Homo sapiens: one gene and its partners. The protein of the gene in region 1 interacts with the protein of each later gene in a biochemical or structural test. Each region holds a gene or a part of one and is shown on either strand. Other genes may lie near its edges. The genes, in order: CTSS, SERPINB3, CLDN3 and CST5.

Evidence for each region.
Region 2: the proteins of CTSS (region 1) and SERPINB3 form a complex in vitro, tested with the Homo sapiens proteins (one study listed by BioGRID).
Region 3: of the proteins of CTSS (region 1) and CLDN3, one has a biochemical effect on the other in vitro, tested with the Homo sapiens proteins (one study listed by IntAct).
Region 4: the proteins of CTSS (region 1) and CST5 form a complex in vitro, tested with the Homo sapiens proteins (one study listed by BioGRID).

Annotation. Positions count from the first base shown.
Region 1 is NC_000001.11:150,762,761-150,769,828, forward strand, and holds the start of CTSS (cathepsin S isoform 1 preproprotein), read right to left. Parts: upstream 3,019-7,068; 5' UTR 2,938-3,018; intron 2,005-2,937; 5' UTR 2,004-2,004; coding exon 1,878-2,003; intron 1-1,877. UniProt on the Homo sapiens protein: Thiol protease. Key protease responsible for the removal of the invariant chain from MHC class II molecules and MHC class II antigen presentation. The bond-specificity of this proteinase is in part similar to the specificities of cathepsin L.
Region 2 is NC_000018.10:63,654,685-63,658,917, forward strand, and holds the end of SERPINB3 (serpin B3), read right to left. Parts: intron 3,947-4,233; coding exon 3,829-3,946; intron 2,729-3,828; coding exon 2,586-2,728; intron 2,303-2,585; coding exon 2,147-2,302; intron 1,378-2,146; coding exon 973-1,377; 3' UTR 513-972; downstream 1-512. UniProt on the Homo sapiens protein: May act as a papain-like cysteine protease inhibitor to modulate the host immune response against tumor cells. Also functions as an inhibitor of UV-induced apoptosis via suppression of the activity of c-Jun NH(2)-terminal kinase (JNK1).
Region 3 is NC_000007.14:73,768,474-73,774,861, forward strand, and holds CLDN3 (claudin-3), read right to left. Parts: upstream 1,798-6,388; 5' UTR 1,577-1,797; coding exon 914-1,576; 3' UTR 524-913; downstream 1-523. UniProt on the Homo sapiens protein: Barrier-forming claudin. Plays a major role in tight junction-specific obliteration of the intercellular space, through calcium-independent cell-adhesion activity.
Region 4 is NC_000020.11:23,876,714-23,884,366, forward strand, and holds the start of CST5 (cystatin-D precursor), read right to left. Parts: upstream 3,036-7,653; 5' UTR 2,964-3,035; coding exon 2,733-2,963; intron 906-2,732; coding exon 792-905; intron 1-791.

The DNA of each region.
Region 1 (7,068 bases):
CGATGAAAGATAAGTGTTGGTGAGGATGTGGAGAAAAGGGAACCCTCATACACTTTTAGTAGGAATGTAAATTAGTACAGCCATTTGGGAAAACAGTATGGAGGTTCCTCAAAAAACTAAAAATATAATTACCATATCATCCAGCAATCTCACTTCTGGGTATATGTCCCAAGGAAGCGCAATCAGTATGTCAATGAGATAGCTGCACTTCCATGTTCATTGTAGCATTATTCACAATAGCCAAGATACGGAATCAACCTTATAAAGTGTCCATTAAAAGACGAATGGATAAAAAAGTGTGGTACATATTGTATTCCATACATAATGGAATACTATTTAGCCTTAAAAAAAAAAAAAGGAAATTCTGTCATTTTCAACAACATGGATGGGTCTAGAGAACGTTATGCTAAGTGAAATAAGCCAGGCACAGAAAGACAAGTACTGCATAATCTCATTTACATGTGGAATCTAAAACAGTTGAACTCATAAAAGTAGAGAGTAGAATGGTGGTTAGCAGAGGCTGGGCGGAGGGTAGACAGGGAAAGGGGAGATGTTAGGCAAAGAGTACAGAGTTTCATTTGACAAGAAGACTACATTCTAGCAATCTATTGCATAGCATGGTGACTACAGATAATAATAATAATGTATTTTATATGTCAAAATTACTGAAAGGGTAGATTTTAAATGTTCTTATCACAATGAAAGGATAAGTATGTGAGGTGCTGAATAGGTTAATTAGCCTAATTTAATCATTCTGCAATGTATATTTGTATCATAACATCACATTGTACTCCATAAATAGACACAATTATTATTTAATTATAAATAAATAAAAATAAAACTTAGAGTGTATGACCTAAGAGTGTCATTTTTATACAAAATAATATGTCAAATAAATAAATATATGATGCTAGCTTACAAACAGAAATATTACATAGTTACAGGACTTAGTTATTTAAAGCAGTAGGGTTAAGGTCTTAACATCAGCAAGTGTGCTTTGAAATAAAAACAAAAGTACAAAATGGGAAGTGATAGTCAAGAAACAATATCTGGCCACACTATGTGGGTATTAACGCCTTTTCGCTCCTCAGCCATCCCAAATGTGGCCCTTCCTCAGGAGCTTGTGCTGATTTGCCCTTGGCCTGAGACCTTCACTCTATTATGTATTTTGCTTGCTCCCTGGCTTCCATCAATTCTCTGCTCAAATGGCACCCTTATCCGTGAGGCCTTCCCTAACCCTCCTGTCATATAGATAGACTTCTTACCACCACCACCACCCAGGGCCCTTCCTACTCTCCATGCCTTCTGTTATTTTTATCTACAACACTTATCACCATCTAGCATACTACATATCTGCTTGTTTATTTTCTTATTTCCTGTCTCTCTCACTATAATATAAGCTCCATAACAGGAATTTTGTTTTGATTCCTGCTGTATGGTACCAAGAACAGTATCTGGCAAGAAACAAGTACATAATATTTATTTATTTATTTTTGAGATGGAGTCTCACTCTGTCACCCAGGCTGGAATGCAATGGCACAATCTTGGCTCACTGCAACCTCCGCCTTCCCGGCTCAAGTGATTCTCTTGCCTCAGCCTCCCGAGTAGCTGGGATTACAGGCGCCCACCACCACATCCAGCTAATTTTTGTATTTTTAGTAGAGATGGGGTTTCGCCATGTTGGCTAGGCTGGTCTCGAACTCCTGACCTCAGGTGATCCGCTCACCTTGGCCTTCCAAAGGGCTAGGATTACAGGCGCGAGCCACCACACCCAGCTTAAATATTTACTGAAAACACTGCCTGTAAGAACACAATTTTAAGAGGTAGAAAACAGTACTCCTTTAAAAGCATATCGCTCGAGTGGCAATCCAATCTACCTTTTCCTTGTATTGTTTGCCATAGGTTTTCTTCCAGAGATGCCAGTGGTGATCCAGGGTAGGATCTTTATGCAACTGTGCCACTGCAGAGGAGCACACCAAGAGCACACAAACCAGCCGTTTCATTCTGTGTAAGGAAAGGTAACATAGGAAGTGTTGCTATTAGCTGCATATGTTGTGACCACATGTTTTCATAAGAGAAAATAACAATGCAAAGTCTATCAAAGGGACAGACTATTATAAACAGAATTATACAGGAAAATTCCTGGGATATATAGTCACAGGGAACAGCTGCAGATTTATGTCAGAAATACTACTTCCAATGCTTAGTAGCACTTTAAAAAGTGATTTCCAGGAATTTCCCAATATCTGGTAAACCAAACACATCTAGAGGGTTAGAAAACAGGGACTTTCCAGGATTTGCCAACAAATCTAATCAAAGGAAATCTCTTTCTCTCTCTCTCAAAAAAAAAAAAAAATCATCCTTAAGAGAGACAAACCTCTGAAAAATCAGTTTATCTCCTGAATTTTTGAATACATGGGCTCTTCTTAACTGACCTGTTTAAATATCCACAGTCTTTACAGATAGTTAAAAGACAATTCTCATCTATTGCTTTCACATCTTTAGGTAGGTAATTTTCCTTTTTACGTTTTTTTTTTTTTAATGATCAGACATCTGTTTCAAATGAGGCAATTAACTACTCTTTAAAATGCCACTTCTGTATTTAATTCAAGAGACATCAACAGAAATTCAGCGACTAGCTCCCTCAAACTGGATTCTACTTTCTTTTCCATTTCTTTTTAATTGAAAACATCTGGAATTTTAAACATGTAAGCCTTTAAATTATATTCCAAAGAAAGCCATGTTTCAGTCTCAACTTAGATGCTTAGATGCTCAAGCAGACATTAACTTTTTAAAAATAGAGAAGAGGCAAATTGAACGACACGATTTTTTAGTTTACTTCCTGAAACCAAAGATTTAAAACCTAGCAGGCAGAACAAGTTACAAACACAGAGTGTTTGAAGACCAAATGGGAGAAAAAGAACAAAGAGTACATACGTGATAGAACCAGCAGTTGCTCCCACAGTAAGAGTCCTTGAATTAGTGGGCTCTCTTCTAAGATTTCAAAGCAACAAGGAGATTTCAGTTCAATTGACTTGAAAAGAAATTGGAACTTGTCACATGAGGTACTCAAAATGAGGAAGTGAACTTTCATTTCAGTTTCATTTAAAATCTAGCTAGTACAGTCACCTCTAGTCATTTCCCTATGGTCTTGGGGACAAAGTGGATACAGTAAGCCATCAAGAAGAGCCCTTGTCTGAGCCCAGTGGCTCATGCCTATAATCCCAGCACTTTGGGAGGCTGAGGCGGGAGGATCACTTGAGGCCAGGAGTTCAAGACCAGCCTAGGCAATATAGTGAGACCCTGTCTCTGCAAAAAAATTTTTTTTAATTAGCTGGGCATGGTGGTGCATGCTTGTAGTCCCAGCTGAGGGGGAGGGTGAGGTGGGAGAATTGCTTGAGTCTAGGAGGACAAGGCTGCAGTGAGCCATGATTATGCCACTGTGTTTCAGCCTGGATGACATATCAAGACCCTATCTCAAAAAAAAAATTAAATTGAATTTTAAAAACACCAACTTTTACATGGAAAACATTTAGTTATAAAGAGATTTAGATAAAGCTCCCCAAATCCCAGCTCCTTGTATGATTTCCTAGGAAAACCTGTCTTACTGCTTTTAACACAACTCATTCATGATCTGATATTGTCTGGTTCTCACTCAGCCATTCCTTCGTTCATCAAACTCAAAATGTCTTTATTAATATATACTATATGTATAGTTTAGTAATATGCGTGTGTGTGTGTGTGTGTGTGTGTATGTGTTAGTATATTCATGGAAAAAAGGATACACTCAAATATATCCAATTGAGAATGATTACCTGGGTGGGGTGGGAGCAAGACGAACTATCATCTTTTAAATTTGCATTTTCCTAATTACTAATGAGGTTGAGGATCTTTTCACACATTTATTGACCGTTTGAATTTTCTGTGAATTTCCTGTTCATCTTTTTTGCTCATTTTTCTATTGTATTGTTGCATTTTCTTAGTGATTTGTGGGAGGTGTGTGTGTGTGTGTGTGTTGTGTGTTTTCCGAGACGGAGTCGTGCTTTGTCTCCCATGCTGGAGTGCATTGGTGCGATCTTGGCTCACTGCAACATCCACCTCCCAGGTTCAAGCGATTCTCTGCCTCAGACTCCCAAGTAGCTGGGATTACAGGCACCTGCCAGCATGTCCAGCTAATTTTTGTATTTTTAGTAGAGACAGGGTTTCACCATCTTGGCCAGGCTGGTCTTGAACTCTTCACCTCGTGATCCACCCGCCTCAGCCTCCCAAAGTGCTGGGATTACAGGTGTGAGCCACCGTGCCCGGCCAAGGTGTATGTGTTTTAAAAATATATTCTGGCTTCTAATCTTTGACAGTTATATACCCTTAAAAACATCCTCCCTTAGTCTTCCACTTGTCTTTTATTTTATTTTTTCTTCCTTTGCATAAGCCTATGAAATTCCACTTGTCCTTTAGTCTTGTTTATAGTGAGTTTTTCTATATGAAATTTTTTTATGTTGAGGTAGAACATTTTATTCAGCTTTTCCGTATAATCAATCTATACTGTTTTTGTATAAGAAAATTTTCCTCATCCAAATGTAATAAAGATACACTCATCTTATTTTTATACTTTCAGAGAGTGTTTTATTTATCTTTTCTATGGCTACTGCTTTTAGGTGTTTAATTCACCTGGAATTTAGTTTTGTGTATGGTATGACGTAGGGAGCTTATTTTCTTTGTTTTCCAATTTTGATTCTACCTCTATTGTACACCAAATTCTCATACATAGATAGGTCAGTTTCTGAGCTCATGAAGCTGTTCTTTTTATCTTTTGCTACTTCAGTATCACACAGTTTTAATTAAAACAGCTTTGTAATATGTCTCCACGTATGGTAAGGCAAGTCATCTAGGCCACCCTATCTTTGTTCTTCTTTTTAAACATTGTCTTTGTATTTTGTACTTGTTAACTCTTCTTTATATGAATTTTTTGAATCAGTTTATCAAGTTCCCTGAAAAACTCTGTTGGAGTTTTTTGCTTTTTTCTTTTGGAGACAGGGTTTCATTCTGTCACCCAGGCTGGAGTGCAGTGATGCAATCATGGCTCACTGCAGCCTTGACCTCCTGGGCTCAAGTGATCCTCCCGCCTCAGCCTCTGGAGTGGCTGGGACTACAGGTGCACACCACCATGCCTGGCTGATTTTGTTTTTTGTTTTTTGTAGATAAGGGGTTTCACCATGTTGCCCAGGCTGGCCTCAAACTCCTGGGCTCAAGCAATCTGCCCACCTTGGCCTCCTGAAGTGCTGGGATTACAGGCATGAGCCCCCACATCTGGCTATTAGAGTTTTTATTTGAATATATGCATAAATTTAGGGAGAAGTAACATCATTATAATGTTGATTCATCTCAGCTGTAGTAGACATGTTTGTGTTTGTAGCCATACAGTTTTTTTTAAAAAGATACTGCTTATGGAAAATTTAAAACACATGTAAAAGTAAAAATAGTAGTAAAATGAGCTGCCGTGAAACCATTGTCTTGTTTCAACAATGATCAGTACATGGCCAATCTTATTTTATTTATATTCCCACTCTCACTACCTGAATTATATTAAATAAATTCTAGACATTCTGTCATTTCATACGTAAATGTCCCTGTGTGTGTCTTTAAAAGACAGAGACTATTAAACAAATATAATACCACAATACCATCATCACATCTAAAATAAATGAACAATAATTTTCTTTTTTTTTTTTTTCTGAGACAGAGTCTCACTCACTTGCCCAGGCTGGAGTGCAGTGGTGTGATCCCAGCTCACTGCAATCTCTGCCTGCCGAGTTCAAGCGATTCTCCTGCCTCAGCCTCCCAAGTGGCTGGGATTACAGGCATGTGCCATCACACCCAGCTAATTTTTGTATTTTTAGTAGAGATGGGGTTTCACCACATTGGCCAGGCTTGTCTCGAACTCCTGACCATAGGTAATCTGCCCACCTCAGCCTCCCTAAGTACTGGGTTTACAGGTGTGAGCCACTTTATTGTCATAAGAAATTAAGACAATAATTTCTTAATGTCATCAGACATCCTATCAATGTTCACATTTTCTGGACTGTCTTATACATTTTTTAATAGTTTGTTTGAATTGAGATTTAAATAAGCTCCATATATTGTGAAACCATTGAGTTATGTTTATATCATTATGAATTCATGGATTTAAACATATTTGATGTGTTTCAATCCATTCCAGTTTTATCCTTATTGATACTCATATTGTCTCATTTTTGGTCTGTAGGAATTTATTCAAACTGGCTCTTTGGTGCAGACAGAGTTTGTATATTTGGCATAATATTAGTACTCTTTAAAAGCTTCCTTTCTTTCTAATATGACAGGCTATTGCAGGTTTGTCTTGAACAATTCCTGCCCCAGACCTGGAATCAGCCATTTCTCCAAGGAGCTCTGGTTCCTTTTAGTGGAAACAATGTTTAAATACCATAATCTAGGAACTAGCAGTGTTTGGGATAGCAGATTGACCATTGTTGCTAAGCCTTTTCAGTAGCTAGAGCTAAGAAATATCTTTTTTAAAAAAATTAAATAAATCACAAGCTGACACTGATACTTCAAATTCAAATTCAAGACTATAGGGTTTACTCACCCCATCAATCTTATATCTGCACTTCTTTTCAAACATGCTTAAAAAATCTGGGTTCTCTAAAATATCAACTCAAGTACTTGTTTAATTTATCCTGTAAAATTGCAGAATAACAACAACAAGCCTACGCCAATAAGATTGTTAATGAAAACAAATTAGAGGTTTTAAAGTGGAGGGGGACAGGTTTTTCTCCATTAAGCCAAATGTCGCTAACGATGTAAGTCAATTACTGTGTTTTGAAGTCACCTGGAATAGTTCCCTGTATGGTTATGCTCCACCTCCATACACAGGTTTATTTGTTTCATTTCACTTCTTCCTTTTAGGGCTTGCTTTTTACACTTATGTAATTTCATTTTATAATTATGTAAAACATTTATGTGGATCCAAAGTGAAATCATCACAATGAGGTATATTCAAAGAACTCTAGCCTCTACTTTTGTCTGTTTTAC
Region 2 (4,233 bases), on another chromosome or scaffold:
CAAATTTAAACCCATGGTCTTTTTTTTCTCTCAAAAACAACATTTTCTTCCATCCTTCCAGTCAGATAGCTCAGAAACTTAGATGTCTTTTTTTAACTATTACTTCCTAAATAATTCTGCCAGGCTGTTTCTTTCTCTTCATTTCCACCCCCAATACTCTAATGATTTCCTGATTTATATATGGTAACCACACTGTTCTTTCCTCTCATCCATTGATATCAGAGTAACCAGAGATGTATTTTCAAGATGAAGATATGATAATTTTATGCCCCTCTTTGACAAACAACCATCAAAGCCTGTAATGAGTTTCTTATCCCTTTAGCATAAAATAGGAAGTTCCTAATGTGGTTTACAAGGCTCCTCCTGTTCTGGGATATGCCTTCTACTCCAGGCTCATCATGAACTACTCTGTTTTTAATTTTCCTTTGTTTGTGATTAATATATCTCTAAATTGTCTTTCCTGTGTGTAACTGGACACTTTCCCTTTCCAGAGAGAAAATGTAAAGCAAAAATGATTTTATGTCACTATTTTATTGATGATGTGTTTTATAGAATCACAAAATTTAGAAACATAAGAAGGATTTAGGTATCACCTAAATTCAAAGAAATGTGTGTTTCTAGGTTGCTAAATTCAAAGAAAAAGTATGATTTGGTTTGGTTCATTTAAAACAGGTCACAAACAGAATTATATTTCAAATTTAGAAGATACGGTATTAAGTGATTCATCTTATTTTGGACATTTTTCCTCAAGGAGAATTTTTCTGGAAGAAAAAGTACATTTATATGTGGGCTTATTAAGAGAAAGAGAGAAAGGCATGCTATTTTAATCATTAAATTCTTGATGATGACGATCATCATCAAGATGAGAAAGAAAAGAAATATGAGCCAAGAGAATCTGTTGTTGCCAGCAATCAGTTTACCAGAACATCTGCAGGTGAACATTTTCCAAATGGAGTGACAGACTAATTGCATCTACGGGGATGAGAATCTGCCATAGAAGAGGATGCTGTTGGTCTTATTTTGCCTTATGAAGAATAGGAAAGGGTGATTACAATGGAACTCTTCATTAGTTGAAGTAGGTGATGATCCGAATCCTACTACAGCGGTGGCAGCTGCAGCTTCTGCTCCCTCCTCTGTAACCTCCACAAAGGCCTTGTGTAGGACTCCAGATAGCACGAGACCGCGGCTCCCGGTCATGCCTGAGAGGTCTGCATCCCCATTGAAGATATCCACCATTCCCATGGTTCTCAACGTGTCCTTGAGGTCATAGCTCTCTTCCACTTTGAACCGAGGTAAGTGTAAATCGACACGTGTCTCTCTCATATTCTGCAAACTTGTCCATTCCATCAATTTCTCAGCAGTGAGTTTCTCTTCAAGCTATACAAATGGAAAAAAGAAACTGATATGACTAACTGTTGATTTCTAATACACCTTAACAATGAATTGACTATGTGGAGAATCCTTATTTTGGCAACAAATGTGAAATACAGAAGGTTCACTTTATTAGATATTATTATTCTAATAGGCAAAATATGAGTCCTGGATATATAAATACATTGGGTTATATGTGTATGTGTATAAACAGAATCAAGTTTTTATGTATATGTAATGTGTACATATGTATGTATACAACTGTATGATACACATGTAAAAATATGATTACATTATTTTGTACACAATGAACTATATATATCACTATTTCTTGTGCCAACAGCCTACTACATGTGTCAATTTTTAATAGGCTCATCTTATTTTTCTGTATACATTATTTAGTACACATTGCAATTATTAAATTGCAATTCCCCAAATTCCTAAATTTCTATTCCCTTTTTTACTTGGTGTATTCGTAAACTTTCCTCACATTGCTATATATTTCTCCCAGTCAAGTTTAAATTGCTGCATAATAATATCATTAAATTGATATCCAATGCATGTAACTCTAATAAATTAATCATTAACTATGCCTTCAGTTTGTGTCAGGCCCTATGCTTAAATCTTTGTAATATGAAGGTGAGTCATCATTCCTCATTTAGAATTTTTCATTATTTTGAGGCAACTCGGTCACCAGCTTTTACCTTGTTTAAACTTGGTATCTTTGGAAAAATGTCAGGCAGTAGAAGGAAGAGTTGTAGATGCAAGTTCTTACCTTCTGGAGACCATCGATTTCATTTGGCAGCAACACAATCATGCTTAGATCTTTGCCTTTGTATGGTATTTCCAGGACCTTGGCCTGTACATCCTCCAGCGAGGCAAAATGAAAAGATGTGTATTGCCTCATCATCTGTATGGACTTGTATGTATTCTACAATAAATCAATGTGTCCAACAAATACCAAGTGAGACACAAGGCAAAAAGATAATATTATTGAGATATCAACACATCCTTCTTTTAAGAAATAATCCAAGAATGTAATGAGTTAGAGACAATAGCTTCTTCAGGAATTCCTAACTAAATAAAGTTATAAGACTAAAACAACAAAAAAACAGACATGAACAATTTTATTTTTTACTTGTCATGGTACATTCCATCAGAAATGTTTAAATTTATTAACATATTACATTATATAAATAAAATATAGACAATACCTTGTTTGGCCAAAATTTTTCCTCTTTAGTATCTTCTTTATTAAATTTCTTCTCCCACTGCCCTTTGAAATAGATTGCGTTCACAAGAACCAATGTGGTATTGCTGCCAATATTACCTTCAGGAATTAGGTTTTTAATTTTTTCTGCAAGGGAAAGAATAAAAGAGTCTTTTACACAAGCTACAAATGGCTTGTCTGGAAGATGCTTTGCAAATGTTCGTGACTGATCGTTAATTATTGACCCAAATCCCTACTTGAGACTCACTGACTTTGATCTTTGAATTGTTAGACTCACTGACCAGTGGTTCACCAGATGCAGCTTTCTTCAAGGCTCCAGTCGTATAAAGTTGCCCTTAATGGAGACATCACTTCTTGTGATAGAGAAGGAGTTCACGTTCTCTGTGTATGAATGAGTCCATTCATCTGATTTGGAATACTGATAAACTGATTTTGTCTACTCTTTCAACATGTGTCTTTCCTTTCTCCCTCCCTCCTCTTCCTACTTTTTTTTTTTTTTTTTTAACTACGGGGTCCCCATTCAGAGGAAGTAGGCCCTGACTGCTTTTTAGGACAAGTGACATGAGCTCTGTAATATGAAACGCATGTCCTGTGCTGTCAGACACTACTTCCGGGGGTATCTTCCTATTCACTCTCATGTTGAGTTGCTGTAAGTTTGGCCTGTAATGAGAGGTGGGAGGTAGGATAGATGTCTATAGAATGGAGAATTTGTTAAGCTCTTGCCCTTGATGGGGAAGAGAGCTGTGATAATCCCTGCAGAACTTGTGGCTAGAGATGTGATCCAGGCAGCTCTAGTTCAGATGGCAAAAGGGTGATTTACCAGAGAGCTGCTTGTTTCCCAATTAGTAAAGGGGAAGGGAGATGCTTTCTAATGTTTCCTTTTAAATATTCATCATAAAATATTGGTTCTGATTTAAAGTAAAGGACATGATCTCAAATTGGACCTGAGTGGAGACAAGGGATCCACAAAGCTATTGTCATCCAGGAACATGAGCAAAGAATCCTCCGGCTATGTTTTCTTCTAATTGGCTTCCTGTGATTTCCTCCTTGGCTCCCCTAGGCTCTCTTCATAATCATTTGGAAAAACTCTTCATCTGGAGTGCCCTCTTCTTCCCTCCCTGCAAAGCCATCTCAATTCCCACCCATGGTCCCCCATGCAGTTTCAGGCATAGGGCTCACTCGCATAGATTTCTCAAAGGTGTTTCTATAATGGGTGGCTCTCCTACCATTCGTTTGACTTTCCACCCAGGAGTTAATCTTCTTTCGACTTTCTTCTGGAGCATTTGCAAAATCAACAGATTCCACACTGGTCTGGTAAAATTTCTTGATGGCATCTAAATATTCCTTTGAGATATGAAGGAAGAAAGTAGGAAGTAAGAGTAATTTATGTAACTATATATTACCAAATTTAGTTATTTATAATTATAGTAAGCTGAATCCAGACCCTGAATAGATGCAGTATCTCCTGTCCATGCATATTTTTATACTGGTGCCATGTAGGCAATGCAAAAGCGGAGTGCGGGCTGGCGCAAGAAAGAGGTCACCGAAGGTCAATATCATCTGGCAAAAGGCAGAAGCAGAAGAGGCTGTGGTTTGCAAACTGCAGAGCAGGCTTCCCTGAAGGAGATTCA
Region 3 (6,388 bases), on another chromosome or scaffold:
TCCTCCCTCTTTCCCTCCCTTGAGGGTCCCAGGAAGGAGATGGGGACCCTTTCTCATCTCTCCCCCAGGTGAGAAGATTTGGCCCGGTTTTACTTTTGGTGGCGTGTTTTATCCAAACAATAGGTCTTTTTGTTTTCGTTTTTCCAATAGGAAATGGCAGTACGGAATGCGCTCTTTCACAAGGCGCACGGGAGATTCCGAATGTGTCGGGTATTGTGCGGGGTCCGGGCTCCCAGCACAGACCCAGGGGCACATCTCTGCCACCTTCCCCTCCCATCCCCAGCCATGGCGTGCGGAAAGTGCTCATGCCTGCTTCCTAGATTGGGCGCTGGCTTTGGCCTCACAGGCTGTCTTCCGAATCCCCAGGGAGTGGGCAAGTGACCACCCCGCCATCACCAAGCTCAGCTTACAACCCCATCTTCCCTCTAAGCTCCATCCGGGAGAGCGAGATCCAGCCAAGGCCGCCCCGAGGGGGAGCTCTGCAGGGAGGTGGAGGCGCTGGGAACAAGGAGGCTCCAGCGAGTGCAAAACGAAAGGCTTTTATTGAAAAATATCAAGTGCCCCTTCCAGGGCTGCCGGTCCCTGCCCAGCGCGAGCATGGGGGCAGCGGCCCGATGGGGCTCGACGGGGTGGTCAAGTATTGGCGGTCACCCAGGCCCCGTGCTCCAGAAGGGTGAGGTTTCACAGTCCATGCAGGTTGGTCCCTGGGCCCCGAAGTCGACTGCCCGGCCCGCAAAGCCGTGGCTGCTGGGGAAGCTGCCCCAGTCCAGCGCGGGGGCTTCCTGGCTTCTGGGGGTGGGCTGGCCTCCGAGGCAAGGCTGCACGCTGGATGGCCTGGTGCGCGCTCCAGCTCGCGGTGGTGGTGGTGGTGTTGGTGGTGGTGGTGGTGGTGGGGTCTCCCTGCGTCTGTCCCTTAGACGTAGTCCTTGCGGTCGTAGCCTGTGCCCAGGCTGGCTCCCGGGCCGGTGGAGCGCGGCGCGGAGTAGACGACCTTGGTGGCCGTGTACTTCTTCTCGCGTGGGGGACACGAGCAGCAGAGCAGCGCGCCCCCCAGCAGCTGCAGCGCCGCGGCCGCCCAGCCCACGTACAGGCCCGCGCCCATCTCGCGCTTCTGCGCCTCGGGCACCACGGGGTTGTAGAAGTCCCGGATAATGGTGTTGGCCGACCAGGACACCGGCACGAGGGTGAGCAGGGCGGCGAGAAGGAACAGCACGCCTGCCACGATGGTGATCTTGGCCTTGGCCGTGTCGTCCTGCACGCAGTTGGTGCACTGGGCGCCCACCAGCGCCACTAGCAGCCCGAAGGCGGCCAGCAGGATGGCCACCACGATGAGGGCGCGGGCCGCCTGAAGGTCCTGTGGCAGTGCCAGCAGCGAGTCGTACACCTTGCACTGCATCTGGCCGGTGCTCTGCACCACGCAGTTCATCCACAGGCCCTCCCAGATGTTCTGCGACGTGATGATGTTGCTGCCGATGAAGGCCGACACGCGCCACATGGGCAACGCGCAGCACACGATGGTGCCCAGCCAGCCCAGCACGGCCAGCGCGGTGCCCGTGATCTCCAGGCCCATGGACATGGCTGCCGCGGCAAGGCCCGCTCCACCGGGTGGCTCCGGGTGCGGGGAGACGAGGGGCCGGGGCCGCTGGGCCTGGCGGGAGCTGCGGCGCCCCGACGGACGGACGGACGGACGGACTGACTCACCGACGGCGCGCGCTAACGGCTCGGCTCCATACGCTCTCGCCGCGGCTGCGCCTGCACCTGCCTGTGGCTTTGTGGGCGGGCGGCGGCGACTGGGCTGGCCCTGGGCTGGGGCCGGTGCGTCTTAGCTAAGTGCCCAGCGCTCCGGTGGGGGCGGTAGGGGCGGAGCCGCGCTCTCCAGGGCCTAAGGACAGTGACGTGGCCCCTGCCTCCCACCTTCACCGAGCGTCCTGGGAGGAAGGACTTGGCCCTGCGCGGCCCACAACGCCGGGGTAGGGGGGTTGCCAAGGAAGGGCGGGACCTGACCCAGCCCCCGCCCCTCGGTCCTTGTCCCTCTCTGCTCGGGAATGAATTCTCCGGGGCAAAACCGAGGACGGGATGCGTCAGGGGCTTGGGGTGCAAATCCCAAAGAATTTGACACGGCTTCTCTCTCCTCACCACTTTGGGCGCTTTTGGCACGTGCCGCGTGGGGATGGGGGCGCTGCCAATTACCCCGGAACGGCGGGGCGGGGAGGACCAGGGTGGGCGTGGCCGCGGCTGTTTGCAGGAGCCGCGCACCTGCTGCTCTGCCCCTCCCGTACACACGTCGCACAGGCTCAGCCTGAGTCCGGGCGGTGGGGTTGTCCAGCCCAGGAATTGCTGGGCCCAGAAGCCAGGGACTGCCTGCGCAAAGGTACCCAAAAGATGCCCTTAAGCCTAACTAAGCTCAAATTCCTCTCCAGCTCTCCCTCCAGTTCCCATCGCTGGCCGTGAGCCTGCATGCCTTTAGCTAAGCTGCTCTCCCCTCCCAGAAGTCCCCCTCCTCCCATTGAGTCCCCTCCCCTCTCCGAGCCCTGTCCTCCCTCCCTTTGAGCCTGAGTCAGGGCTGAGGCCCACCTTAATGAAATGGTGGTGAAAGAGGTTCGATCTCCGCAAAAGTGGGAAATCGGGCAGGACCGAGCACCGTGGTGGCTGACTCCTGTAATCCTCGCACTTTGGGAGGCTGAGAAGGGAGGATTGCTTGAGACCAGGAGTTCGACACCAGCCTGGGCAAAATAGTGAGACCCCGTCTCTACAAAAAATTAAAAAACTAGCCAGGTGTGGTGGCGTGTGCCTATAGTCCCAACTACTCCGGAGGCTCAGGCAGGAAATTACTTGAGCCCAGGAGTTCGAGGCTGCAGTGAGCTATGATCGCACCACTGCACTCCAGCCTGGGCATCAGAGCAGACCCTGTTTAAAAAAAAAAAAAAAAAAAAAAAAAAAGGTTGGGAAGTCAGAAATGCTACACTCAAAGCCCTGGCTGTCACACCTGGACGATCGTTCCCCCTTCTTCACCAAGCTCAGAGCCCTTCAGATTTGGCCTTGGAGGTTCAGCCTGGGCTGTTCCTAACCCCATCCCCTCTCTTCCCCTCAGAGCAGCCCTTGCATACCACATGCCCCTGCCTCAGAGTCCCTGCACTTACTGTCCCCTGTACATGGAACATGCCTGCAGACATCCACATAGCTTACTCCTAACTGCCTTCAGCTTTTTGCTCTCAGTGAGTCTTTCCCTGACCACCCTATTTAAAACTGCAGCTTCTGGCTGGGTACGGTGGCTCACGCCTGTAATCCCAGCACTTTGGGAGGCTGAGGCGGGTGGATCACTTGAGGTAAGGAGTTCCAGACCAGCCTGGCCAACGTGGCGAAATCCCGTCTCTACTAAAAATGCAAAAATTAGCCAGGCGTGGTGGTACACGCCTGTAATACCAGCTACTCGGGAGGCTGAGGCAAGAGAATTGCTTGAACCCAGGAGGTGGAGGTTGCAGTGAGCTGAGATCACACCCCTGCACTCCAACCTGGGTGACAAAGCGAGACTCTTTGTCTCAAAATAAAATAAATAAAATAAAATAAAATAAAATTGCAGTTTCTTACCCCACAATGCCTGCCCCCCTTTAATACTTTATATTCTGCTTAGCATGTAACACCATCGGACAATATTCTATATTTTTCTTATTTATGTTTCATTGTACTTAAAAAAATTTTAAATTGGCAATGATCGTACCTACGCGTGGCACACCCAGTGATGTTTTAATACATAGAATGTATAGTAATCATATCAGGGTAATTGGCATATTCATCATCTCAAACTTTTATTTCTTTGTGCTGGGAACGTTCAATAACTTATTTATTTATTTATTTTAGAGACAGTGTCTTGCTCTGTCACCCAGGCTGGAGTGCAGTGGTACTATCATAGCTCACTGCAGCCTTGAATTCTTGGGCTTAAGCAATCCTCTAGCTATAGCCTCCCAAGTAGCTGGGACTACAGGCATATACCACCAAGCCCACCTAATTGTTTCATTTTTTTTTGTAGAGATGGGGTCTCACTGTGTTGCCCAGGCTAGTCTTGAACTCCTGGTCTCAAGCAATCCCCCAACCTTGGCATCCCGAAGTGCTAGGATTACAGGTGTGAGCAGCAGTGCCCAGCCTATTTTTTTTTTTAAACGAAATCTCGCTCTTTTGACCAGGCTGGAGTGCAGTGGTGCAATTTCGGCTCACTGCAACCTCCACCTCCTGGGTTCAAGCAATTCTTCTGCCTCAGCCTCCCAAGTAGCTGGGACTACGGGCACGTGCCACCACGCCCAGCTAATTTTTGTATTTTTAGTAGAGATGGGGTTTCACCATATTGGCCAGGTGGTCTCGAACTCCTGACCTCATGATCTGCCCGCCTTGGCCTCCCAAAGTGCTGGGATTACAGGCATGAGCCATGGCACCCAGCCAATTTTTAAATTGTTTCTTTCTTTCTGTTCCAGTATGTCAGCTCCATTGGGACATCTGTAATGTCCCAGAACAGGCAAGAATTTTGCTGGTTTTATTCACTGCTGCATTCCTATTGCCTAGAATGGTGTTGGGTACTCAACAGAGAGTCGATTTAGTGACTTGAATGAAGGGAAGACTTTCTCATGTTCCTTCAACCTTGCCTACCCAGGCTTTCCTACTGGCATAAATGACTGATAAAGGGATACTGCTGTGCTGAGTCAAGGGGGCTTGGTCATCTTGTAGGAGTCAAGGGCTCTTCCAGAGAGAAGAGAGACCCCATTGAGCTGGGCCTTGGGGTTTTTTGGGGTTGCCTCCATATCTCAAATCACAGGCATGCAGCCTGTGCCCTCTTCTGTAAATGCCTAAGCCTTGGAATGATAGAAGAGCAAGAAACATGGCTGGGTGCAGTGGCTCACACCTGTAATCCCAGCACTTTGGGAAGCTGAGGCGGGTGGATCACCTGAGGTCAGGAGTTCGAGACCAGCCTGGCCAGCATGGTGAAACCCCGTCTCTACTAAAAATACAAAAATTAGCTGGGCGTGGTGGCATGCACCTGCAGTGCCAGCTACTCGGGAGGCTGAGGCATGAGAATCGCTTGAACCCAGGAGGCGGTGGTTGCAGTGAGCTGAGATCGTACCACTGCACTCCAGCCTGGGCGACAGGGCGAGACTCCATTTCAAAAAAATAAAAAAAAAGAAAAGAAGAAGAAGAGTAAGAAACAGTGTCAGGGGCTCATGGAAACCAGGGTTCTACTTCTTTCAGGAGCAAAGGTCTTGGGCTGCACCTGTTGGGCAGGGCCTGGGCAGATCTGGGAGTGCCAGTCCAGAGGGCCCAGCTGGTGCTGGGTGGAGCTGTTCTAGAGGAAGTTCATATAACTCAAGTCCTCCAGTGGACTACTGGCTGCTACAGTTTCCTGGTGAGTGGGGGTGGCTCTGGGCCAGAAGAAAAGTAGACCCTCCAGGTGGTGTGGCTGGGCTTAGACTAGGGGTTGAGGCCCAGAGTGGTCCCCACTGCACTGCCAGTTGTGCCTGGATTGGGCACTGTGAGCCCTACGCCTGCTGGCCTTGAGGCTGGTGAAAGTCACGTCGCCTCTCTTAGCCTCAGTTTCCTCCTCTATAAAATTAGGGAAATGGTGTCTGCATGACTCACTTCCAGGGTTATGGTAAGAATAGAGGCGATGTTAAGTATGCTATAAAAGCAGAAAACAGCCAGGCAGGGCATGTATATGTCCAGAGAAATTGTACAGAGAAAAGGTAGATCTGAACTTGAGCCTGGCTTTGCTCTCCTGGGTCACGAGCGCTTGAGCCAGTCCTTTTACCACCTTGAGCCTCAGTTTCCCCATCTGTGAGACAAGAGTTGTCCTGAGTTGCTTGGGTTTGGGGCTTGTCCCTGAGCCTGGGGGAGGTGGACCTGCTGGGCAGGGCTGCACTGAGATGAGGCCAGCAGGACAGAGCTTCATGCCCAGAGGCCAAACTTCAGGGACTTTGCAAATAAGACTTTGCCTCTGGGCAAACACAGCTCCAATCAGCTTTTTGCTCAATACCTACCATGATTCCTACAACTCAATAATAAAAAGACAAATAAACCAATTAAAAAATGGCCAAAGAAACTGAGCAGACATTTAGAATAGAGAAAGAATGTATAAAAATGGCCAATAAATGTGACTAGGGGGCGGTATCTCACGGCTGTGATCTCGGCACTTTGTGAGGCCAAGGCAGGAGGATCGCTTGAGGCCAGGAGTTTAAGACCAGCCTGGACAACATAGCGAGACCTTGTCTCTACTTAAAAAAAAAAAAAATTAGCCAGGGATGGTGGTGTACACCTGTAGTTCCCAGCTACTTGGGAGGCTGAGGTGGGAGAATTGCTTGAGCCCAGGAGTTTGAGGCTGCAGTGAGCTATGACTGTGTTACTGCAC
Region 4 (7,653 bases), on another chromosome or scaffold:
GAGAGTGTGGCTCTGCCTTGAGCAGAGACCTCGAAAGAAATCCTGGGTTCTTGGAGAGGCTGATGTTGGGTGAGCTGGGGCAGGTCCAGGGCTTCTCAGCTAACAGGCATTTAATTCCTTCTAATGTGCTCAGAGTGGCTGTGGCTGCAGGCAGGTGCCTGAGGCTGGGGTTAGACAGAGCCCCTTCTTTCTGACCAGAACCCAGCCCAGCAGCTTCTTCCTCCAGTCCAACAGACAACACCCCAAAGCAGGCAGAGTTGACCTCCCAGTAACCATTACCAAGCTAAAGTCTTCCTAGCAAAACAAATTCATCACCCCTATCCACACCACTCCATCTGCACACACATAGGCATCTATATTAACTCACAGCAACCCTCACCCAAACGAATATATGCATGAACCCACATACTCCTTCACACATCCACACACATGCACACACACACTCCTGTGCATCTTCCTCATGTATGCACACATATGCATCTTTCTACATGCATAGCCACATGTGTACACCATCCCACACATTCATTCATGCATACACAAAACTCCATATGCACAAACACATTCATTGACTTCACAATACACATCTGCACATGTGTGCCAAACACACATGCATCCTCCCATGCACATGAATACATCCTTGCATACGTGGCCCCACAAATATCTGCACACATGCACACATGCCCTCCAAAGCATGTGCAGGAGTACAGATGCGTGCACACACACATACACACACACACATGCACACACTGCTCTGCGGTACTTGATGCCCCTGACCCACATCAGGCACATACCTCTTTCAGTTTTGGCTGGTCATTGAAGGGACAGTTGTCCAAGTTGGGCTGGGACTTGGTGCATGTGGTTCGACCGAACTTCACATTGAAGTAGTAGTTCACCCCACCCACGATCTACACGCGTGGAAGAGCAGGAAGCAGGGGCAGCATGCTGTCAGTTTCATGCACACGCAGGCACTTCACTGTGACTGAGTCACTGGGCTTGCCTGGGGCTTCATGCCCACACTGTCACCCAAAAGGCACACAAGCCACCTTCTCCTGCTGGCTGGCAGTGGTAGTGTGTCCCAGTCCTTCCTAGTAACTTGTTTTCTCTGGGTATCTCAAGCAAGCTGTCTCATGCAGCCCAGTAGAAAGAGAAGCAGGGGCAGGGCAGATGGAAGCCAGGGCCTAAAACCCCCTTCACTGGATTCAGGAACAGAAGGCACAGCTCTGGGGAACCAGCCAGGGTGGGACAAAGAAACAGTCCTGGCACCAGGCTTGCAGGGCAGGGTCTAAGCACCAAGTGAATGCTCTTTCCCACAGCAAAGGATTAACTGAATTCTGCTACCTGTGCTCAGGGGGCAGGGACACTGGTCCCATCCTAGGAAGGCTGCCACCTGATGATGAAATTTCAGCTAACTTCCAGCTCCTGGCATTCAGTCCACAGAGCATCTCATTCCTGCCATTTAACCCAGAGGTATTTTTCCTCATTTCTCAGTAGGAGATGAGATGCTCACATACATTGATGTTTTAGGCCAATAAACATTGCCTCCTGCATGCCTCCATTCCAGGTGTGATTTTCAAGGCAATATTTCTAAAGTGAGTCACACACCTGCATGTCTTAGGGTTGCAACTTCAGAAGAGAACTGAATGCTTTCCCTGCACAGTGCCGCCCCAAAACATGACTTGTCAGAACTGTGGAGAAGCATGGGATGAGGGACCCTGGGACCAGGGTGCTAGACCTTGCCCTGTGGAACCACACACAAGTCCTGTAGAACCACATGGAAGTCCTGTGATCCCTCCGGTGTCAGTCTGCTGCTCTGTAAAATAGGCTCCAGGGCCCAACGATCTACATCATTCTGTGCTTCACTCCCAGTGAGTGACACACTTAAGAGGGAGTGCAGGCCAGCAGGGACCACAGCACCAGGGAATGCCCCTCCTGTGCAGGGAGAGGGCTGCAGGAGGAGAAACAGGGCTGGTCTGGACTCCTCTGACTTTCCAAGAGAAGGTGGAGGAGCTCTAAAGGCTGGCAGGCCATATAGCCCTGTGGTCGCTGTGTCACTGCTGCTCTGCCATGGGACGTAGGTCAAGCTGGGCTCGGTAGCCCTGCTGAAGCTTCCTCCCTCTGGACCCAACCACCTCCTTCACTCTGCTGGGTGATTGCTGTCCTCATTTTGCTGAGGTCTAACTCTGCGTTAGCTGGCAGAGGCAGGGTCAGGCATGCTCTACCCCAGCAGGAACTCAGCTGTCCTGGGCTGTAGGGGGTGGTCAGCCAGCCTGAGAGTGAAGGCCACTAGCCATAACGGGCTGTGCCCAGGGGCGTGACTTGGGAGGGAAGCGGGGCTATCCAGGACAAGGAGTCAGGTTCCCGTGTGGCCCCTGTGGAGAGGACTCAGGGAGGAAGATGAACCTCGTGGCCTGGATCTCATCCTGAGCAGCATCAAGCCCACCCAGAGTCAGCACAGTCTCCATCCACACCTGCTGGACCCTGGGAAATGCCACAGTCATGGTACAGACACAGTGGCTGCTGCAGGTTAAAAGAGGCCGAGGGGACAGGACAGGGCTGAACTCATGCACTCACGGCCAAGGAGTGTCCTAGGGCATGAAGACCATCAGCAGACAGTCAGAGAAAGCTGAATGAGTCTGCGGTTTAGATAATGTTGATTTGCTGGGAGTGCTCTGGGGGGTGAGGCAAAAAACCCAGCTGGGACTCAGGACCCCCAGGGTGGTGGTAGCACGCACCTGCTGGTAGGCAGCCATCACCTGCAGAGGGCGGCTGTAGTACTCATCCTTATTAATGACCTTGTTGTACTCGCTGATGGCAAAGTCCAGGGCACACTGCACACTCTTGTCATTGAGGTCTGTGGCATGGATGCCACCTGCCAAGGTCCTAGATTGGGCCGAGGCACTCCCGGCCACGGCCACCATCAAGGCAGTCAGCAGCAGCAGTGGGGTGTGCATGGGCCACATCATGTTCTACTGGGACACAGAGCAAGGAGCTGGATCTCCCAGAGAGCAAAGCAGCAGAAGGCTGAGGCAGGAAGCCCAGGCCAGAAGCTAGCTGTGCATTTATCCTACTTGGGTGTCCCCCAACCCCACCTGCTCCCTGGCCCCGCCCCTGGCTCCTCCTCCTCTTTCTACCCCTCCTCTTCTGTCTCTATCTCCCTTTCCACCCCCAACCACCTCCCTCCCTCCCTAAGTTCCCTTCGCTCCTCCCATGCCTCCTCCTCATCCTCCTCCCCACTCCTGTCCTGACCGCAACCTCCCCACAGCCCTGCCCCTCTTCCTCAGTGCTCTAAAGCTTGGCTCACTCTGGATTCCAGAGAGGTGACACCGCTCCCTGGGCTGTGAAACCTGGTGACCACCTATGTCCACAGGAAAGGGAGAAATACAGGGCTTGGCCTTCTAAAGTCTTCAGATGTCAGGGGCATCCAGGAGCACGTGGTCATGGTCTGGGAATTCCTGGGGCAGGGAGCTGTTTCAGAAGCTCCGGGATGACCTTGTCCATGCCCTCTTCTGGGGAACTTCTTTGCCAAACATAAAGTAATTAACCTTTGGGTAAAGTTCACTGGGTTCTCGTTTCATAACTCCTCATTATTCAATAAACAAACCTGTCACCAGCTTCCCCCTGCACCAAGCAGTCTGGGCAATAGAGCCGTAGACATGAACTTGCAGAGCTGCCATCCAACAGAGATGTGACAGAAACCCAGGAGCAATTTAAAACACATTTGAAAAAGTTAAAAGATACAGCTGAAAGTAATTTTGGTATTTCTACTTTAACCTAATATATCCAAAATACTTCAACACTTCAGGACTATTCTTAAGGAGCTAGTTTACATTCTTTTGTGTGAGTGTAATGTCTTGAAGTTCCCTGTGTATTTTTTACAGTTAGACCAAGCGTCACTGTGGACTAGCCCCATTTCAAGTGCCCTGTGGCCACGAGTGGCTGCTGGTGGCTGTGGTACTGCATAGCCCAGCCATTAGGGTGTGTGGGAGGATGCAGAGTGGTGATCAACAATTTAGATCAGGGAATTATAGTCGCTCAGTTAGAGAGAGGGTGGGTGCTACTGGACCCTGGTCAGGGAAGTCTCTAAGAGACCGGAAAGGTTGAGAAGCCCCAGGCAGCAGGGAATAGTCAGTGCAAAGGCCCTGAGGCAAGGCTGGGCATGCCTGCTCCAGGAAGAGGAAGCTCCTGGAGGGGGTGTGAGCAGGGAAGGGAACGACCTGGAGTCTCACGGTAACTGTGGGTGTGTCCAGGTGGAAGGCGCAGGGAGACCCCTGGCAGGTGGTGGGGGTGTCAGGAGAAGGAGCAGCAGCCACAGGATGAATGTGGGAGCCCAAGAGCCTCTCTTGCTCCTCCCCTCTGGGAGACGTGCTGCCAGCACTGGTCCTCTGTACACTGCTTGGAAAACTCATGTAATATTTTAAAAATTACATTGAATGAGGTAGAATTTACACACAATAAAATGCCTAATTGTATGTGCCCAATCTGGGGGATTTCATAAATGCATACACTTGTGTTACCACTTTGTCCACACCTGTGATATCTGCCTCACCCCAGATGGTTTCCTCCTGCCTCTGAAGCCCACCCTCATGCCCACCCGACCCTGGCAGCCCACATCTGGTCCTGTGGACTCCTTTGTTGCCTGTCCTTGAGCTTCCCAGGAATGGAATCCTGCAGAGAGAGCCCAGGTGTGTCTTCGTCCTTTGCTCAGCGTGGCTTCATTGCCAGGATTGAGAGTTCTCCTTCTCCACAGACTGAGAGGATGTGGTCAGTTGGGTGCCCTGTGGGCTGACAAAGCCCCCAGCTCGGGATGCTGTGGGCCTGGACTGGAATGTGACTTCAGGAGTAGGGAGGGTGGAAGGAGGCTCTGAACAGACAGCTGCTCCCTTTGTTCTCTCAACCCCCCCTCCATGCCTGAAGGTGATCCTGCGGCAAATGCCCTTATGGCGAGGTGGCAGGCTTGGCCAGAAACACCAGGAAACCCTGGGCCTTAGCAGGACACCCAGAGGACTCTCCTGGGAGTGGTGGAGGTGAGGGTCGGCCAGGATCAGCCCAGACCTGCTATAATCCTGGGGCTCCGCCATGGCTGGGGCTGCATCAGCAGGAACCCGACAGCGGGAACAATATTACTCATGGGTGCTCATGTTCAGTATGAGGACAGGGGACCTTTTTACCCAAGGCCCAGTGACCATTGCACCCCACTGTGAATCCAGCACCCCTAGAAAAGCCATGCACTCCAGCAGATACAGCAGGTGGCCCAGGGATAGTGTTTACTGCTGGGTGAGGGAGGGAAGGTCTTCAAGCAGGGCTGCACGTGATGCCTCCTAGTTAGACAGGAAATTGGGGGAGATTCCCAGAGAAGGGAAAGAGAGGGCAGTCCCTGGCCAGGTGCTTGTGGGCAGAATGGTCATCTCCCAAGTGTGGGAGTTGGGTCTCCTCTGTGGCTCCCACCTTCCCTGGCCGCTAGGTCTCAACTCTCAGGAGGATGTGTTGTGCAGAGGGTAAGCTGAAATACATACAAATCTCTCCTATCTTTTATCATTAGGAAGGAGATGCAGGTCATCCACATAACAGGCATATGGTGGTGGGTGGAGTATGGGGTGGGAGCTGGAGTGCTGGCCTATTTCCCTGTATGTGATGCCACCGCCAGTGGTCATCCTCTGTCAGGACACTGGAATGAGCTATAGGGAGGGTCAACAGGCCTGATACAGTGGCCACTCTAATCTTTGTAGTCAGACCCCCATGTAGGGCACTCTCAGGAACTACAAGAGATGCATCCAGTATGGGTGATGGTAAGTGGAAGGTTAGGGTAGATGGACAGCTGCTCCAGCTGCTGGGTGACCTTGGGAAAATGTTTTGCCTTCTCTATGTGTCATGCATATGGAAAGGTGAGCTGCTTTGTAAATGGTGGTGTCTGGTGGTTCAAAACCAGCAAGATAAGTTTGATTCTGCAGTGACATTTAAGTGTGGTTAAAATTTACAATAGCCCAGTGTTATGGCATGCCTGTACACCTACTCTTGAGGCTGAGGCAGGAGGATCTCTTGAACCCAGGTGTTCCAGACCACACTGTGCAACACAGTGAGATCCCATCTCAAAAAAAGATGGAGACTTAGTTCCTATAGCTTACAGCTCCAATGACAGGCTGGCAGGGACCCAGAGATAAACAATGGACTCAGGACCAAGCCTGGGGCCTCCAGCACCTTCGTAATCTGGAGGAGTCCAGTTGCCCAGGAGGGGGCATGTTTCCTTTCTGCCAGTGGATGAAAGAGAAAGCCGTGTTCTCCCAGGTTGCGTGTGTAACTTGATCCCATGATTGAATTAGTAGAGTGAGAAATTAGGTGAGTGACAGAAGTTCTCTATAATAAATAAGCAGTAAAGGGAAACACTAAACAATATTATAACCAATAAATACCTAAGGGCATAAACATCACCTAAAGTGCAAGTGGTTAGATCAAGTTGGCCAAGAGTTGAGATTCTGCACATCCGGGTTTTGAGCAATTAACATTCAGTGTCTGTGATAGGAGATGGGACTGAGCAGCCACGGGATTTGTTGGCTTCTCAAAGGGGAAGCCCAGAATCCTCCTTTATGGAGTGCTGCGAGTTCTCTGGGGTCAAGCTTGTCCCTTATGCACACCCTTCCTCCTTCCCCCTCCCTGCTCCCAACTGTGGGGGACCTGAGATACTCCTGGACCATTGGCCACCATTGGTAAGCATCTGGGCTCTGATGGGGATGAGGCCACATTATTATGAACTCTGGTACTTGCTGTGAAGCATGCCCAAAGCCCCTACAGGAAAAGGGCGTACAGAGCCCAGGATCTGAGGTCTGAGAGTTTGGCCCTTTATGGAGGGAAAGAGAATCCTTGGGAAGTTTCCTGCTCAGGGATCAATGTGTAAACAGCACTTAGGATTTTAGATTGCAAGGTTACTATTTATTTTCTCAAGGAGTACATTCTTCCTAGCAGAGCCATGGCTAGAGAACCACAGCCGAGTGGAGAGGACAGGGAGAGTTCCTTGGGAACTCGGGTTGCTTGCTGATGCACCCAGGGACTTCCCCCAACTCCCTGGTCCCAGCCTGCAGGGGCCTGGCCCAGGAGAATACAGATGGCTCTGAGGGGAGAGCAATCCCCTTGGCATCTCTGTGTGGTGAGAGTTTCCTTTCTAATCCCCATTCAGGTCACTGCTGGGACTTCCCTGTCACTGTTTGTCTAACCTTAAATATCAATTCCTTTAGCAGACTGCAGTGGCTGTGGAGAGTGGTTCCTGTTCCTGCCTGGAATCCTGTTACACTCAATCAGTGGGTGCTGGAGCTGGAGCCAGAGGCCATCAGGACAGCCTGCCTGCTCTTGTGGCCCTGCCTGCCCTCTCCTCCTGTCACAGAGGAGCTGGATCCAGTGAAAAGACTCTCTAACGAAACTTTAAGGCTCCTCTGAGCCTTCTTCACTAGGCCTCAACCTTGGTCTCCAGCTCCTACCTGCCAGGTCTGCATTGCTCAGTTTTAGGAAAGAATCCTGCTTCCTTTTAGGGAGAATCCTGCTGTCCTTGGGGTCTGATCACCCTTGACATCTGATCAAGTTCCTCATCCCTCAGCTTTGATGTCTAAGGCTGTGTCCTGCCTTTAGCAAGAATCCTGTTTGGTCAGTTCAGCCAGAAACCCCTAC